Homo sapiens: one gene and its partner. The protein of the gene in region 1 purifies or fractionates together with the protein of each later gene. This does not show direct contact. Each region holds a gene or a part of one and is shown in the gene's direction. Other genes may lie near its edges. The genes, in order: SMOX and ALDH1A3.

The links.
Region 2: the proteins of SMOX (region 1) and ALDH1A3 purify together in Homo sapiens (affinity purification with mass spectrometry; 2 studies listed by BioGRID and IntAct, with this or other methods). This does not show direct contact.

The regions. Positions count from the first base shown.
Region 1 is NC_000020.11:4,151,581-4,158,848, forward strand, and holds part of SMOX (spermine oxidase), read left to right. Parts: intron 1-3,635; exon of another isoform or gene 3,636-3,886; intron 3,887-6,982; exon of another isoform or gene 6,983-7,268. UniProt on the Homo sapiens protein: Flavoenzyme which catalyzes the oxidation of spermine to spermidine. Can also use N(1)-acetylspermine and spermidine as substrates, with different affinity depending on the isoform (isozyme) and on the experimental conditions.
Region 2 is NC_000015.10:100,903,595-100,910,862, forward strand, and holds part of ALDH1A3 (retinaldehyde dehydrogenase 3), read left to right. Parts: intron 1-1,928; coding exon 1,929-2,093; intron 2,094-3,526; coding exon 3,527-3,684; intron 3,685-4,813; coding exon 4,814-4,888; intron 4,889-7,268. UniProt on the Homo sapiens protein: Catalyzes the NAD-dependent oxidation of aldehyde substrates, such as all-trans-retinal and all-trans-13,14-dihydroretinal, to their corresponding carboxylic acids, all-trans-retinoate and all-trans-13,14-dihydroretinoate, respectively.

The DNA.
Region 1 (7,268 bases):
ACGGCCTTTGCTTGTGCTATCTTTTCTGCCAGGAGTGTTTTCCAGTGCCCTTTACTGGCCTGGCTTTTCTCCTTCTTATTTTTAAGGTCTTCACTTAATTATACCTTCCTCAAATGCCTTCCCAGTCTTGGGAAGTCCCCCGTAATTAATCGTAGCACCTGACTTATTTTCTATATTATATTTATCACAGTTCACAACCATTTGTTACAATTGTTTGTATACTTGACTTATCTGGCTTCTTAAGGGCCGGAACCTTGACTGAATGGACCAGTGCTGTATCTGGAGCATCTAGCACAGTGCCTGGCATGTAGCTGATGCCCAGGAAATCTTCAGCCAGGTGGCAGGTTGGGGCTGGATTGGGCAGAGAGGTGGGTATTGCAGTGAGCACAGGAGTCCTCTTTAAACTTCAAGTGACCCTGAGGATTTTTATTTTCTTTCCACAAAAGCAACTGTGCAGATTGCTGCAAGAATCTAAGGGCGCCAATGGGATGTGAAAAAGGGAAGTGGAGAAGGTATGCGTGGCTGGAGGGCAGGGCTGTATGCCGAGGGCAGCCGGTGGGATGTGAGTCTGTGTGTGTGTCACTGTGGTTGGGGTAAATGATTTCCTTTGCTTTCTTTGGTAGAAATGCAAGCTGGGTCAGCAGAGGGATATGTGTGCATGTTGGGTGGGAGGGAGATTCTCTAGCTCACAAGATGTGGGCAGCCTGGGCAGCCAGGGATTGATTTCAGCCCACTCTCTTGGGTGACTGCTGGGTACCCAGCCCTGGGGTGGTCTCTCTCTATCTCTAGACTCTTGCCTTTCTACCCACAGCTCTCCTGTTTGCACAGAGGAGCCAGTTGAGTGTTAAATTGTGTGGCTGGTACTCTCAGAATGGAAGGCTGAGAGCCAGGGGACCTCAGATCTGGGAGGGAGGGGAGCTGACCCCTGGACAGGGGGACAGGGGTGGACTGAGGTAACACCGCGACGTGGGTGCTAGAACTAGGGGCAGTGGTCCAGATCTGGGATGGGGCTGGCATGCCTAGGAAAGACCTTGAGCTGGGATAGGTAGGGATGAGGAGGGCATCCTGGGTGGGAGGAATCAAGCAGAGGCCAAGAGGCAGGGCAGGGCCCTGGTATATTCACTGCATGCCCTGCATTGTTCTAAGCACTTTGCAAATGTTAACTCCTTTAATGCTCTTAACAGCTCTATAAGGTAGGTCTTATTCCCATTTTACAGCTGGGAAGACTGAGGCACAGTCATACAGCTAAATAGTGACAGAATGAGGATTGAATCCAAACATTTTACAGACGGGAGGACTGAGTCATAGTCATACAACTAAATAATAACAGAGTAAGGATTGAATCCAAACAACTTGGCTCCAGAATCCATGCTTGAAATCGGTCCACTCTGCCACTTCTCTCATGCCTCTCAGTTATGTGTCAGCCGAGGGCTTCCTAAGAAGAGGCTTTTCCTGCCTCCCAGAGGTGCCTGGCCTTAGGGGCTGGGGAGGTGGGAAAGAAGGTAGAAGGGGTCCTCGCTTGGAGTGGGTGACCGAATTTTTCTGCTTCATGCCCCACTTTTTCTTCCAGGAGGGGCTCCGGACCCAGGCCAATGGGTTGGGCATCACGTACACTGTGATTTTGGGGTGCTGGGAAGGTCTGCTGCTTCTGGTTCAGCTACCGCTTTCTGCCTGAGATGCCATCATTAGAATGTCACCCTTCTGGGTTTAGCATTGCCCTCGTCATCTGCCTGTAAAATGGGATTAGAGGGACTTTTTTTCTTTGCTCCCTGGAGGTCACATGCTTGAGTGCCTTCTCCTTGTAGACTCTGAAAGGAGGAAAGGCTTCCCCTGGGATGCCAGGCTGAGGAACTGGGCCAGGAAGGAGGGAGGAGGGTGTGTCAGCTCTGCCCTGGGAGGCTTTCCTGTTTGGCACGAGGATGACTCTAGGCAGGTGACCTGGCCTCCCAGGGACCTGGCTGGCTGGCTGAGGAACGGTTTGCTGACCACACAGGGATGGGGTCTGTTTTCTCTGAATTCTGAGCCCCAGAGTTGAGGGGATCTGCTCATCTATCTGGACAGATCCTGCCAGCCTCCTAGGAAGAGAGGGAGGCAGGGTTAGTGGAAACTGAGGCACAGGGAAAACATTGCTGTTGGAAGCTCACCAGCCTTCATGGTTGTCAGGAAGGGCTCCCTTCTCTGGCAGGGGAGCATGGGGGAGGCCTGTCCACGGTGCCCAAGTCCTTGTCTGCTGAGTCGAAGTGAAGGCTGTGGCCAAGCCTGAGGCGGGCAGGCTAGAGCTGAGGTGGACTTCCTGACAAGTAGACACTGGGCCTTGTTAGCTGTGGTCAGCACCTGGCATCTCCTGTGCCCCAGCCTGGTGTTCAGAGCCTTTGGGAACACAGGACACGGTTCCTGCTCTCCAGGAAATAAACGTGAGCCATGCCAGGTGTGATATAATGAGGTCCTCCTCCCAGAGGAGGTGGTGCTTTGGGAGGGTTCTGAAATCTTGGGCGGCTTTGGCCGACAGAGGAGAGGATGGCCTTCCTAAGGTGGAGGAGGAGAAGTGGGTTGAAGCCAGGTTGGGAAAGGCCTTGGCTGCCAAGCTGCTGAGTCTGGCCTTGATTCAGTAGACCCTGGGGAGCCTTTGAAGGTTATAGGGCATGGGGGCAATTACTTGATTAGGGCAGTGGTCTATAAAAGTGCTTTTCAAACTTGAATGCACATAGATCACCTAGGCAGCTTGTTAAAATGCATGTCTGTCCTGTCTGATTCACCAGGTCTGGGGTGAGGCCTGTGACTCCGCATTTCTTTCTTTCTTTCTTTCTTTTTTTGAGACGGAGTCTTGCTCTGTTGTCCAAGCTGGAGTGCAGTGACAGGATCTCGGCTCACTGCAACCTTCGCCTCCTGGATTTAAACAATTCTCCTGCCTCAGCCTTCTGAGTAGCAGTAGCTGGGATTACAGGTGCCCACCACCATCTTTAGTAGAGACAGGGTTTCACCATATTGGTCAGGCTGGTCTCGAACTCCTGGCTTCAAGTGACCCACCTGCCTCAGCCTCCCAAAGTGTTGGGATTACAGGCATGAACCACTGTGCCTGGCCTGAGACTGCATTTTTAATAAGCTCCTTGGCAGTGCAATGCTGCTGCTCCATGGAGCACGCTTTGTATAGCAAGGATTTAGACTGGAGTCTTGAGGGACGAGTGCAGTTCAGGTGGGTGGAACAGGGAACTAACTACCTTGGCTCCTGAGGCTCCTGTGTTGCGGGATGTGTAGGGAGCTGCCGGGGTAGGGGGTGGGGGTGGTGCAGGTGGGCTGGGGGCAGGACAGAGGGGACTGTAGAAGATGTGAGATGCAGGGGCCACTCTGCTGGGAGCTGGGGCTGTGTGAGGGCCTCTGGGTGCTTGGGTCATAGACCAGGAACATAGGTCTGATTTCCAGGGCCTCTGACTGTAAGGAGCTCCCAAGACCACGAGGGGGTATCTTGGGTGACTGTATCCCGGGGCAGGGTGACATGCAGACAGCACGGAGGGCACCTTATCTCTGTCCACAGCCGAGCCTGGCACTGTGGGCAACCAATCTGGGGTGAGCACCCTTCCTCCAGCCAGGGCGGGGCCGAGAGATTGGGGAAACAGCTGATCCGGCCCTCTAGCTCCAGCTGTGACGTGTCCTCATAGAAGACGGTAGTCTCCCCAGCTGCCGGGCCATCACCCCAGCGTGTGCAGTGCCTGTCACCCTGGCCCAAGTCCTTGTTGCTGCCGCTGATGGTTACGTGAGCTGCTGTCACTGATGGTTACATGAGCTGCTGTCGGGGGTCTTATCCCACTCTGGCCACCTCTGCGGCGTACGTGGGAGTGGGGGGGGCCTGGATGCTTCTCTCTGCTCTGCCCTGGCTGGGCCACTACAGGCAAGTGTCTGCTCCTCTCTGAGGTGTCAGTCTCCTCATCTGTAAACTGAGGGGTTCAGGTCCCTCCAGGGGGGTTATCACACGGTTTGCTGGGTGGGGCATTGCCTCTTCCCAGAGAGTCAGCTTAACACATTTTAGTTTAATATTAAATATTAAAGTTAATATTAAAACTCACATGCTAATGATGGGGTCGAATTAGCAATTTGCTTGGAAAAAACCATCCGGGTTGTTTTGGGGGTCTCCCAAGGCCCCTTGCACCTCAGGCTCTACATGGCCTGGGGTGCGTATCTGAGGACACTGGTGGGTTGAGTCCCCCCAGTTGCTGGAAGCGGGGTAGCAGTCACTACACCCAAAAGAAGGTACAGAGGGCAGACACAAAGGGCAAAGGTTCCACTGCCCTGGGCAGTGCCATGAGGGGCTGGCAGGGTAGGGGTTGACTGGCTCTCAGTCTGAGCTCCCCAGATATCCCACACACACCTCCTCAAAGGAGGGCAAGGCCAAGCCAATCACACCCCACTTTGATCCCTGCCCCTGGGCCAGGCCGTCCTGCGGGATGGGAGGGGATAACATTTCTCAAAGACTGTTCTGCGCAATCTCAAGCGTTCAGGGGACAAATAAGGGTAGAAACTGGCAAATTCACTCCACTACCCTACGGGAGATTCAGAATACATTTAAGAGAATTAAAGGTCCTGACAAGTCCTGTAGAAAAGAAACTGTTTAGTGTTTCCCAGCCTGATCTGACCGTGGAAATCTTTTTTTTAAATGACTGCCAATAATGTCCCACCCACCAGGAAAACACCTGCTGGGAAAAGCTGATGTGGAAAGATGCTGCTCACTGGAAGGCCACGAACATGGTAGCACAGGTGGACTTCCTGGTAGAGGTAGACTTGGTGGGATGGGCACATTTGGACAATCAGTAGAAGAAGAGGGCACTGCAGAGAGAGAGATGCCAGGCTCCCCTCTGAGGCCTCAGTTTCTTCATCTGTAAATCTTTGCCCCCCATGTCTGCCTCCCCACCTTCCTTTGGGTGTAGCAACTGCTACCCCCCTGCCAGTGCCTGGTGGGACCTCAACTGACCAGGGCCCTCAGATGTGCCCATCCCACCTCTACCAGGAAGCTCCCTGCCATCCTTCCTTTTCTCCCTGGTATTTCTGGGCCGAGAGCCAGCCCTGGGTTCTTGTGGCAATGGCTCTGCCTCACTGGGTGAATGAGGAAGGATCTGGAAGGACCTGTCTGGTGCCTGGGATCCCCAGGTAGCTGGGCCTGGGTCTTCTGGATTCTTTTTCTTTTTTTTGAGATGGAGCCTCACTCTGTCACGCAGGCTGGAGTGCAGTGGCGCAATCTCAGCTCATTGCAACCTCCACCTCCTGGGTTCAAGCAATTCTCTTGCCTCAGCCTCCCGAGTAGCTGGGATTACAGGCGCTCACCACCACGCCCTGCTAATTTTTGTGTTTTTAGTAGAGGTGGGGTTTCACCGTGTTGCCCAGGCTGGTCTGGAACTCCTGGCCTCAGGTGATCTGCTCACCTTGGCCTCCCAAAGTGCTAGGATTACAGATGTGAGCCGCTGTGCCCGGCCATCTTCTGGATTCTGAGAGGGCCTTTTCCTTATACCTCCCGGGCATTTCCTCGCTTTGCAAGTTCTCCCCAGCCTTTCATCTCAGAGGTTAACACAGCAGGGTTGTGAACTCTGGACAATAAGCTAAGCCTCTCTGTGCCTCCGTTCCCTCATTTGTACCATGAGGGTAATATTACCTCCCTCCTAGGGTGGCTGGGTTGTTGTGACACTCTAATACCGGTTGGCTGCTCTTACTACTGGATTTGACATGGCTGGAGGAGGGACCCTGGGGAGGGCCCTGTCATCGTGGACATGAGGGAAGAAAGCAAGAGCCAGCAGAAAGCGGCACAAGGCTTAGGTTGGGGTCCTGGTTAGACCAGAGTAGCCTGCAGAGGAGAAGAAAGAGGGTGTGGGTAGCTAGCAGGACTGGCTTCCTGGAGGAATGGCCAGTTAGGTGGGGAGATCTGGACAGAATGAGAAGTCACAGGTTTGAGTCTGAGAGTCAGAGGATCCTGGTGGGTGTGTGTAGGGGACAAGTGGCCTGCGGGCAGGGAGGAGGCATCAGGGACTACCTTCGTTCACTGGGCTGTGGCAGCCCACAGAAGGTTTTGAGCAGGGCAGTGATGTGATCAGAGCAGTGCATTAGTGAGACATGAGGCAGGGTGTGAGTGATGGTGGGCTGTGGGAGGGGGCGGTGCTGTGCCCCTTCATGGACATGAAGCTGGGGGAGGGGCCAAGTTGCGGACGTGACCCTCATTCTCAGACTCTCAGGGCAGTCAGTGAGGCTACCCTGCCTCGCCTCTGCCACACCTCCTTTCCTCTGTGGTGTGAGGCTCTTTGTTCAGCAGCTCAGGTGGGGGAGATGGGCTGTGGTATTTTTTATTTTTTATTTTTTTTGAGTTGGAGTCTCGCTCTGTCGCCCAGGCTGGAGTGCAGCGGCGCGATCTCGGCTCACTGCAACCTCCGCCTCCCGGGTTCACGCCATTCTCCTGCCTCAGCCTCCCGAGTAGCTGGGACTACAGGCGCCCGCCACCACGCCCGGCTAATTTTTTGTATTTTTAGTAGAGATGGTGTTTCACCTTGTTAGCCAGGATGGTCTCGATCTCCTGACCTCGTGATCCGCCCGCCTTGGCCTCCCAAAGTGCTGGGATGACAGGTGTGAGCCACAGCGCCGGTCGGGGTGTGGTATTTTAAATACCCAGGAGGAGCTACGGTGGTGCGTGGGGCAACATTGGCCCTCCGACCTGACCCGAAGGCCCTGGTGGGGCATGCTCAGTGGATTTTCCTACCCAGCCCTAGCTCCCCTCTCTTGTCCTCCTTTGCCCCTTTGTCTTTCTTCCTCAAGCATGTAGGAGCCCAGTGCTCTCTAAATCTGGGGCTGGGAGGTTGGAGGATGAGGAAAAGCATCTGGATTCAGGTGGAGCATGGTGGCCTAGCTGGGGGCATTGCAGCACCCCTTAGTCCAGATTCCCTTCTTCTCCACCTGCTTCTTGAGGGACGGCATTAAGGAAGGTGTGACTTAAAGTCAGAAGAACAAGAACTTGGAAGTGAGTTGCAATTTATTAGAAAACAGAACAAAGAATCTAGCCACCCCTGCCAACTCTGTGCTAGGCCCTGGCAGACACATGGGTCCTGTCTTCCCCATGCAGCCCCGGGGGCCTGAGTGAGGCATGATGGGTCTCACTCAGTTTCTGGGACATCTGTCTCGATGCCCTTTCGTCAACCCCATGGCTCTCTCAGAGCCTGTCCTCATACCTTCAACTGCTCCCCACCCATAACCAGATCTCCGGGACAGCCCAGCTCAGCCAGCGCACCTCTGATCCTGGC
Region 2 (7,268 bases), on another chromosome or scaffold:
TGAATTACCTTCCATAGAGGCTGAACCAACGTGTATTCCTACTAACATTCTAGAAGTTTGTCTGTTTCTTTACCCTTTCCAACAGAATATGGATTTTTGCCCATAGGAGAGTTAAAAATGCTATCTTGTTTCATTTTAATATGCATCTACCGCTTATAATAAGCAAGGTAGAACATCTTATTATATATTTAAAAACCGTTTGTATTTCCTTTATTATCAAATGTGCTTTGCGTATTTTTCTTGCAAGCTGTTAGGCATTTTTCTTATCACTTCTAAGACCTCTTTACATACATAGTAGAGAGATTAGCTTTCTATGAATATGACTTGTTAATATTTTTTCCAAGTTTGTTGTTTTGCTCTTTGTTATGATAATTTTGCCCCCACCCCATTTTTTTTACATACTCAAAATTATACATCTTTTCTTTTTTGGCTTCTGCATTTTGAGTCATTAGAAGGCACTCCAAGTTTGCAGGATAAGTCTCCCACATATAAAACTTTTATGGTTTTGTTTTTCCTGGTTATATCTTTGATCTATTTGGAGTTTGGCCTGGTATAAAGTGTGAGGTATGGATCTGAGTTAGTATTTTTAAACTGGGTTTGGAGTTTGGCCTGGTATAAGGTGTGAGGTATGGATCTGAGTTAGTATTTTTAAACTGGGTTTGGAGTTTGGCCTGGTATAAGGTGTGAGGTATGGATCTGAGTCAGTATTTTTAAACTGGGTTTGGAGTTTGGCCTGGTATAAAGTGTGAGGTATGGATCTGAGTTAGTATTTTTAAACTGGGTCCATATTTCATGAGATGATTGGTCAAGTGGCATGCACGGTTTATGCCCTCTCTCCTGCTCCTCCAGGACAGACCGTCATCCAATTGCACCACTGGGTTTGCTTCTTTTTCTGTTTATGATCATTGGAATGAAACCAGTTTTCCCATCTAAAAATCCCAGCTAAAGTAAACCTAGTAAAGCTTTGTCTCTCCCAGCCAAAGAGGAGGGAGACCAGCCACAGATCATGATAAAGGACAAGATTCCCATAGATTTCAGGAAGAAGGACCAGTGGAGGGGGCAGAAAGAGCATTTTCCCTCTTGAGCAGTCTCCCAAAAGGGTGCGCTTTTGACAACTGCTCAGTAGCGTGTTCACAAGCTGTGGGTCAGGCTGGTGGCACAGGGCAAACTCCAGCCAAGGAGACGTCTAGACAAGATAGCAAAAGGGAGAGTCTTTCTCATGAGCTGTTCCCACCACCAACCAAGGAGCAGCCCTGCCACCCCACCTGGAGGCTCATTCTGCTTTGTCCCCAGGGGTGTTGAGTAAGGTGGTTAGCTTTTCTTCTCGCTTCTCTGCACCATGACAGGAGAATTCCAGTAACTATTACCCTGATTCACGGTGCCAACTGAGCAGGGCACAGGGTTGCCAGGTGATACATGGCACCCAGGTAAACATGAATTTCAGATAAACAGTAAATGCACTTTTAGCTTAAGTATATCCCAAATATTGTTTTGGGACATACTAAAAAAAATTATGTGTCATTTTTCTGAAATTCAGATTCACTGGGCATCCCGTATTTTTATTTGCTAAATTTGGCAACCTGAGTAGAATGTAAAGAGTTGGGAGAAGAAAGACTGTGACCACTTCAGACCTGTGTCACTCATGGACTAACTTTGCTGCATGGAAAAGGGAGATAGAAGTGTAAATATGTCCCAAACCTCCAGAGGATGAGACTAGTCTATCTCCCCATCTCTCCCCTGCTCCAAAGAGCCCAGCTCTGTGCATCAGAGGAATATTTGCCTGCAAGGCTCATTAGTTACATGGATCATGGCTTGACAAGAACATGCAGAGGGAGGATGGCTGATCATGTTGAAGGCCACTGAAAACATGAGATGGCAGCCACTGCCCAGAAGGAAGCCAGGCTGTACTTCTTGTTTGTGTCTTGCAGATTGATCAAAAGCAGTTCGACAAAATCTTAGAGCTGATCGAGAGTGGGAAGAAGGAAGGGGCCAAGCTGGAATGCGGGGGCTCAGCCATGGAAGACAAGGGGCTCTTCATCAAACCCACTGTCTTCTCAGAAGTCACAGACAACATGCGGATTGCCAAAGAGGAGGTACAAGGGGGCTGTGGCAAGGCTACGACTTGCGGGGCCTTTCAAACACGAGTCCTTCCCTAGGGCCCAGGGATCCCAGAAATCCTTGTGATCTGAGTGTTTTTTTGTTTTTGTTGCTGTTGTTGTCGTTGTTGTTTTTTCTGTGTGGTCTTTCCCCTCTCCTTTGGGGTCCCTAGGGAAGCCGTTTTGTCCTGCCTCTGGCGAACTCCAAGCATGATACAGCAGGTACCTTGTTTGTTCTAGCTAGTTTTCACTCATGGCTCACCCTCTCTGGGAGCAGCAAGCCCTCTCTGATTTTCTAACACAACCGGTCCCCGAGTCAGTCATGCAGCCGCAGGTGGAGAACTGTTGCCACCTGTGGGTTTTGCCAGGAATCAGTTCAAGAACCTGTGGATTCAGGGCCCAAAGCCGCCTTCAGTGCCCCTAGACTGAATTTCAAGTGTTCACTCAAGGAACATGTCACAGCTGGAATTTTTATTGACATTTTCCACCACGGACGTCTTGAAAATGAGGGAAATTAAGGAGACTCCCCCACTCCCATAAGAGTGTAAATCTTTCTCTTTCAACTCCACTGTTACACTAGACGGGAACTGGTTCCCACACAGCATTTGTAAGAGGAGAGCTGGATCCCAGGAGGTTAGACCCTGGAGGTGGTATTTTGGGGCACATAAAAGGATGAGTCCCTGCCAAGGGCTTTCTGGGGCAGGTATTTCAGAGGCGTCTTCCTTGAGATTGTTATGTGCCGTGATGGCATGAAGCTCAGCTCCTTAAACATCCCTGTGACGAGAGGTCCTGGGGAACCCGGAAGGTATTTTGGCAGGCCAGGCACCATCCTGCCGGCTTATAATTATGTCTAATATTGAATCAATTACAAGCTCCCTTCAAAATCACCTTTAAATGTTCAAGCCTTAGTTCTTCCATTTCCTTTTCTTTGCTGTGTCACAAACTGTGGTGAATATTGTGTCATTCCTTCCCCTGGTAGTTATTATGGAAACGTTCTAGGGTGTCTTCCTTGGTAGAAAACACAGCTCCAAGAGGTAGGAGCACAGTCTTACAAAGTGCCTGCAGATATCCTTCAGGACAACTCCGAAAAAAGTTACCTAAAGGTTTTGTGTTCTGTGCATCTATGGGTTACTCCAAGGCTCTCTGGCTGGGTTTCTCGGAAACCCTGATGACAACAAGACATCTTAAACACAACATATATTTTTTGTTATTATTTTTTATTTTTGTTTCATGTTAATCCTTCCCTTCAGTCTCCAATGGCAATGCAGCTGAAGCAATGTTTGGACGTTCTTTCTTCTCTAATCATCGTTTTTCAGGCATGTGTGTGCTCTGGGCATATGAAAAACATGTAAAGAGAAGGAAATGCTTGTTCACAGCATGCATTTCCATTCAGTCATGCCTCTCATTGCCATTCTTGCAATTAATCATAGATTTTCGGGCCAGTGCAACCAATACTGAAGTTCAAAAGTATCGAAGAAGTGATAAAAAGAGCGAATAGCACCGACTATGGACTCACAGCAGCCGTGTTCACAAAAAATCTCGACAAAGCCCTGAAGTTGGCTTCTGCCTTAGAGTCTGGAACGGTCTGGTGAGTTGACTGTGTGTGTATTTCAGCTCTCCTGAGTTGCTTCTTGCTAAGTTCATTATTCTTCTATTAACTGAGAGTTTCTCATTGTTTACATTGTATATTATATACCAAGCCCTGTCTCAGTGCTTCCTTCCATCCTCATGACCATCTTCTGAGGTAGCTGCCATTATGTCTCCATTTCAGAGATGAGAAAATTGAGGCACAGAGAGATGAAGTGACTTGCCCAGGGTCACACAGCTAGCAGATGGCCGAGAGGGCTCCAGTACCTGTGCCTGTGGCCCCTGTGCTGTACTGCCCCTCCAACTTTATTTTCCATTCTGATTCTAAAAGCAGTTCATGCCCATCTGCAAAATGTGGATACTAGTCTCTGCCTCATCAGTAATTCTGCAGATTATGTTTTGTGATCCCCATATTAAAGATTAATGAATTGAGGCTCAGAGAGGTTGAGCAATAAGCCCAGAATCATATAACCAGGAAGCAGGAGAACTTTGGGGTCAGTTCTGTCTCATTTCAAAGCTAATTCTTATTCCTCTACACCCTGATTTTTCTTTTTCTTTCTTTCTTTCTTTTTTTTTTTTTTTTTTTTTTGAGATGGAGTCTTGCTCTTTCCCCCAGGCAGGAGTGCAGTGGCACACTCTCGGCTCACTGCAACCTCCACCTCCCAGGTTCAAGCAATTCTCCTGCCTCAGCCTCCCCAGTAGCTGGGACTACAGGTGCACGCCACCACGCCCAGCTAATTTTTGTATTTTTAGTAGAGATGGGGTTTCACCATGTTGGTCAGGCTAGTCTTGAACTCCTGACCTCAGGTGATCCATCCATCTCAGCCTCCCGAAGTGCTGGGATTACAGGCATAAGTCATCATGCCTGGCCCTCTCTTCTTTTTTCTCCCCTTATCATTTCATTCCTATCCCAATGAAACACACTCTGTACTTGAGGATTTCCAAATTTTAGTTGCTGATGAGAAGAATGAGAAGACAAAAGTTGAGAGCACCCTGTGTTTTCATCAAGGAAGCTTTGGCAAAAGACTGTTTATTAGACAATGCCCTGCACTGGGGGCTAAGTGGCTGCAGTGCCAGGAGCCAGGGGGTCTTCTCCAGATGACTCTGAGCTTTCTTCCATTCTTTTCTAGGATCAACTGCTACAACGCCCTCTATGCACAGGCTCCATTTGGTGGCTTTAAAATGTCAGGAAATGGCAGAGAACTGTAAGTGTTTCCATCATTCTGAGCCTGCCGTGGGCTGAACACTAGATCCACTAGATTTGCAGGCAGTGACACAGGCTCCAATCTGCTGACACCCCGTCCCCCCCACACCGCCGCTCTGTCTGGGCCAGCTGTGTCCCTCTAGGGTTGGTGGGGACCCATCCCTTCCTCTCTCCAGCCCACCCTTCCCACTTACATCCTCAGCCTGCCCCCCTCCAGGCCTCGGCTTTTGTGTCTGCCCAGCAGCCATCATGCTGGGGACATTCAGTGGATATTTGACAAAAGCTCCCTGGACGGGGACACAGGCAGAACTGAAAAAGTGTACTTTTGCCAGATGTGGGGTGTCATTATTCACACAACTCCCCACTCACAGCAGTGAAGACAGGTAAGGCTGACCCAGGTAAGGCTCCTACCTGCTGGGTCCTTTTTTCTGAGCCTAGTAGGGGACCTCCTCCCAGGAGGCATATGACAACACCTCCTGCTGGGCCTCTGCGGCCCTCTCAGTATATGCAAGCCTACTGCAAATCCCTCCACATGCGTGTGCAAACCCACTGCAAACCCCTCCATGCGCGTGCAAACCCACTGCAAACCCTCCACGCGTGCATGTAAACCCACTGCAAACCCCTCCGTGCGTGTGCAAACCCACTGCAAACCCCTCCACATGTGTGTGCAAACTCCTCAGTGTGTGAACCCACTGCAAACTCCTCCGTGTGTGTAAACCCACTGCAAACCCTCCACGTGTGCATGTAAACCCACTGCAAACCCCTCCGTGTGTGTGCAAACCCACTGCAAACCCCTCCACATGTGTGTGCAAACTCCTCAGTGTGTGAACCCACTGCAAACTCCTCCGTGTGTGTAAACCCACTGCAAACCCTCCACGTGTGCATGTAAACCCACTGCAAACCCCTTTGTGTGTGTGCAAACCCACTGGAAACCCCTCCACTGTGTGTGCAAACCCACTGCAAACCCCTCCACATGTGTGTGCAAACTCCTCAGTGTGTGAACCCACTGCAAACCCCAGTGTGTGCAAACCCACTGCAAACCCCTCCACATGTGTGTGCAAACTCCTCCGTGTGTGTAAACCCACTGCAAACCCCTTCGTGTGTGTGCAAACCCACTGCAAACCCCTCCACTGTGTGTGCAAACCCCTCCACACTTCCTTTTTTGTCCTGCCTGCTGGGAAAATGAGTTCCCTAGGTTTAGATTAATGGGTGGAACTTCTTGCGTCTGGCCCACACCCAGAGCTGGCTAGAGCAACCCGGGAGTGGAGATGTGTGGTTTCCAGCCGGACACTGTCTTCTCTCCCCAGCTCAGGATTTTATTAGCCTGTGTGGACAAACATTTTGTAGGATCAGTGTTCCCAAGGAACCATCTGTGACAACACCCCAGGTTCCTGGGACATCTCTAGGGACCCAAACTCTTCCTTTTATTTCACTAGTCTGTCCTATTTATATACAAATGTAGTCCCTTGTTTGCACTTCTTCCAGCGGGAACAGACTCAAACGCTTCCCCTCACCTTGGGCCTTGGTTGGGGCCTTTGTGTGGCTCTCTTTTGAGATTCTTAAAGATGCTGTGAAGGGATGGGCCTGGCTTCCATCCCCAAACAGATGTTCTTGACCAGTCTATGTGGAATTGGGGTCCTGTCCCCCTCCCACCTCAGTCCTGCTTTGTAGTCCATCCCTGACTCTCAGCAAATACTCCAAGGCGTCTGCACTTGTGAGTGAAGCCTGTCCATTAGCCTTCCCCCTTATCCCTGTGGCTGGCTTCGCCTTCAGCGGACATCAGTAATTGTTGGCCATGAAACCCCTTTGCAGAAATTGCATTTCCTCCCTCTAGTGGCCTGTTTGCATTTGAGTTCTGTGAGCCCCTGCTTCATCACTTCTTACACCTGCCCCTCCAGGGACAGGCAGCCAGGGCTGGGGTCACCAGGGTCCCCTCTTGGGCCCTCCAACAGCAACAGTACTGGCAACAGCTGGGATTTGCTGAGCACAGACTCTGCAGCAGGCTCGGTTGAGCTCTCTATGCCTGTTCCTTCATACCATCCTCACGCCCATCCATGAGATGGGTCCAGCTGTTTTCAGATGAGAAAATGGCACAGGAAGCTGGTAAGTGACAGTCAGAAATGAATGCTGGCAGCTTAGTCCTTGGACCCACCGCAGTGCAGGACCTTGCTCAACAGGGATCACCCTTGTCCGCCACCTGTTCATGAGGCCACCCAGGGTTTGCGTGGTCATTTGTCTCCTTTCATCTGCTGCCTTCAACCAGCTGGGTCATTAGGGCTGGGGAACCCAGACCCCACACAGTCCTCCTCCCAGACGCCAGACACAGCCTCACGCCACAGCAAGGACTCCAGTCCCCGAAGCAAATGTCCCTGGGCGTAGAA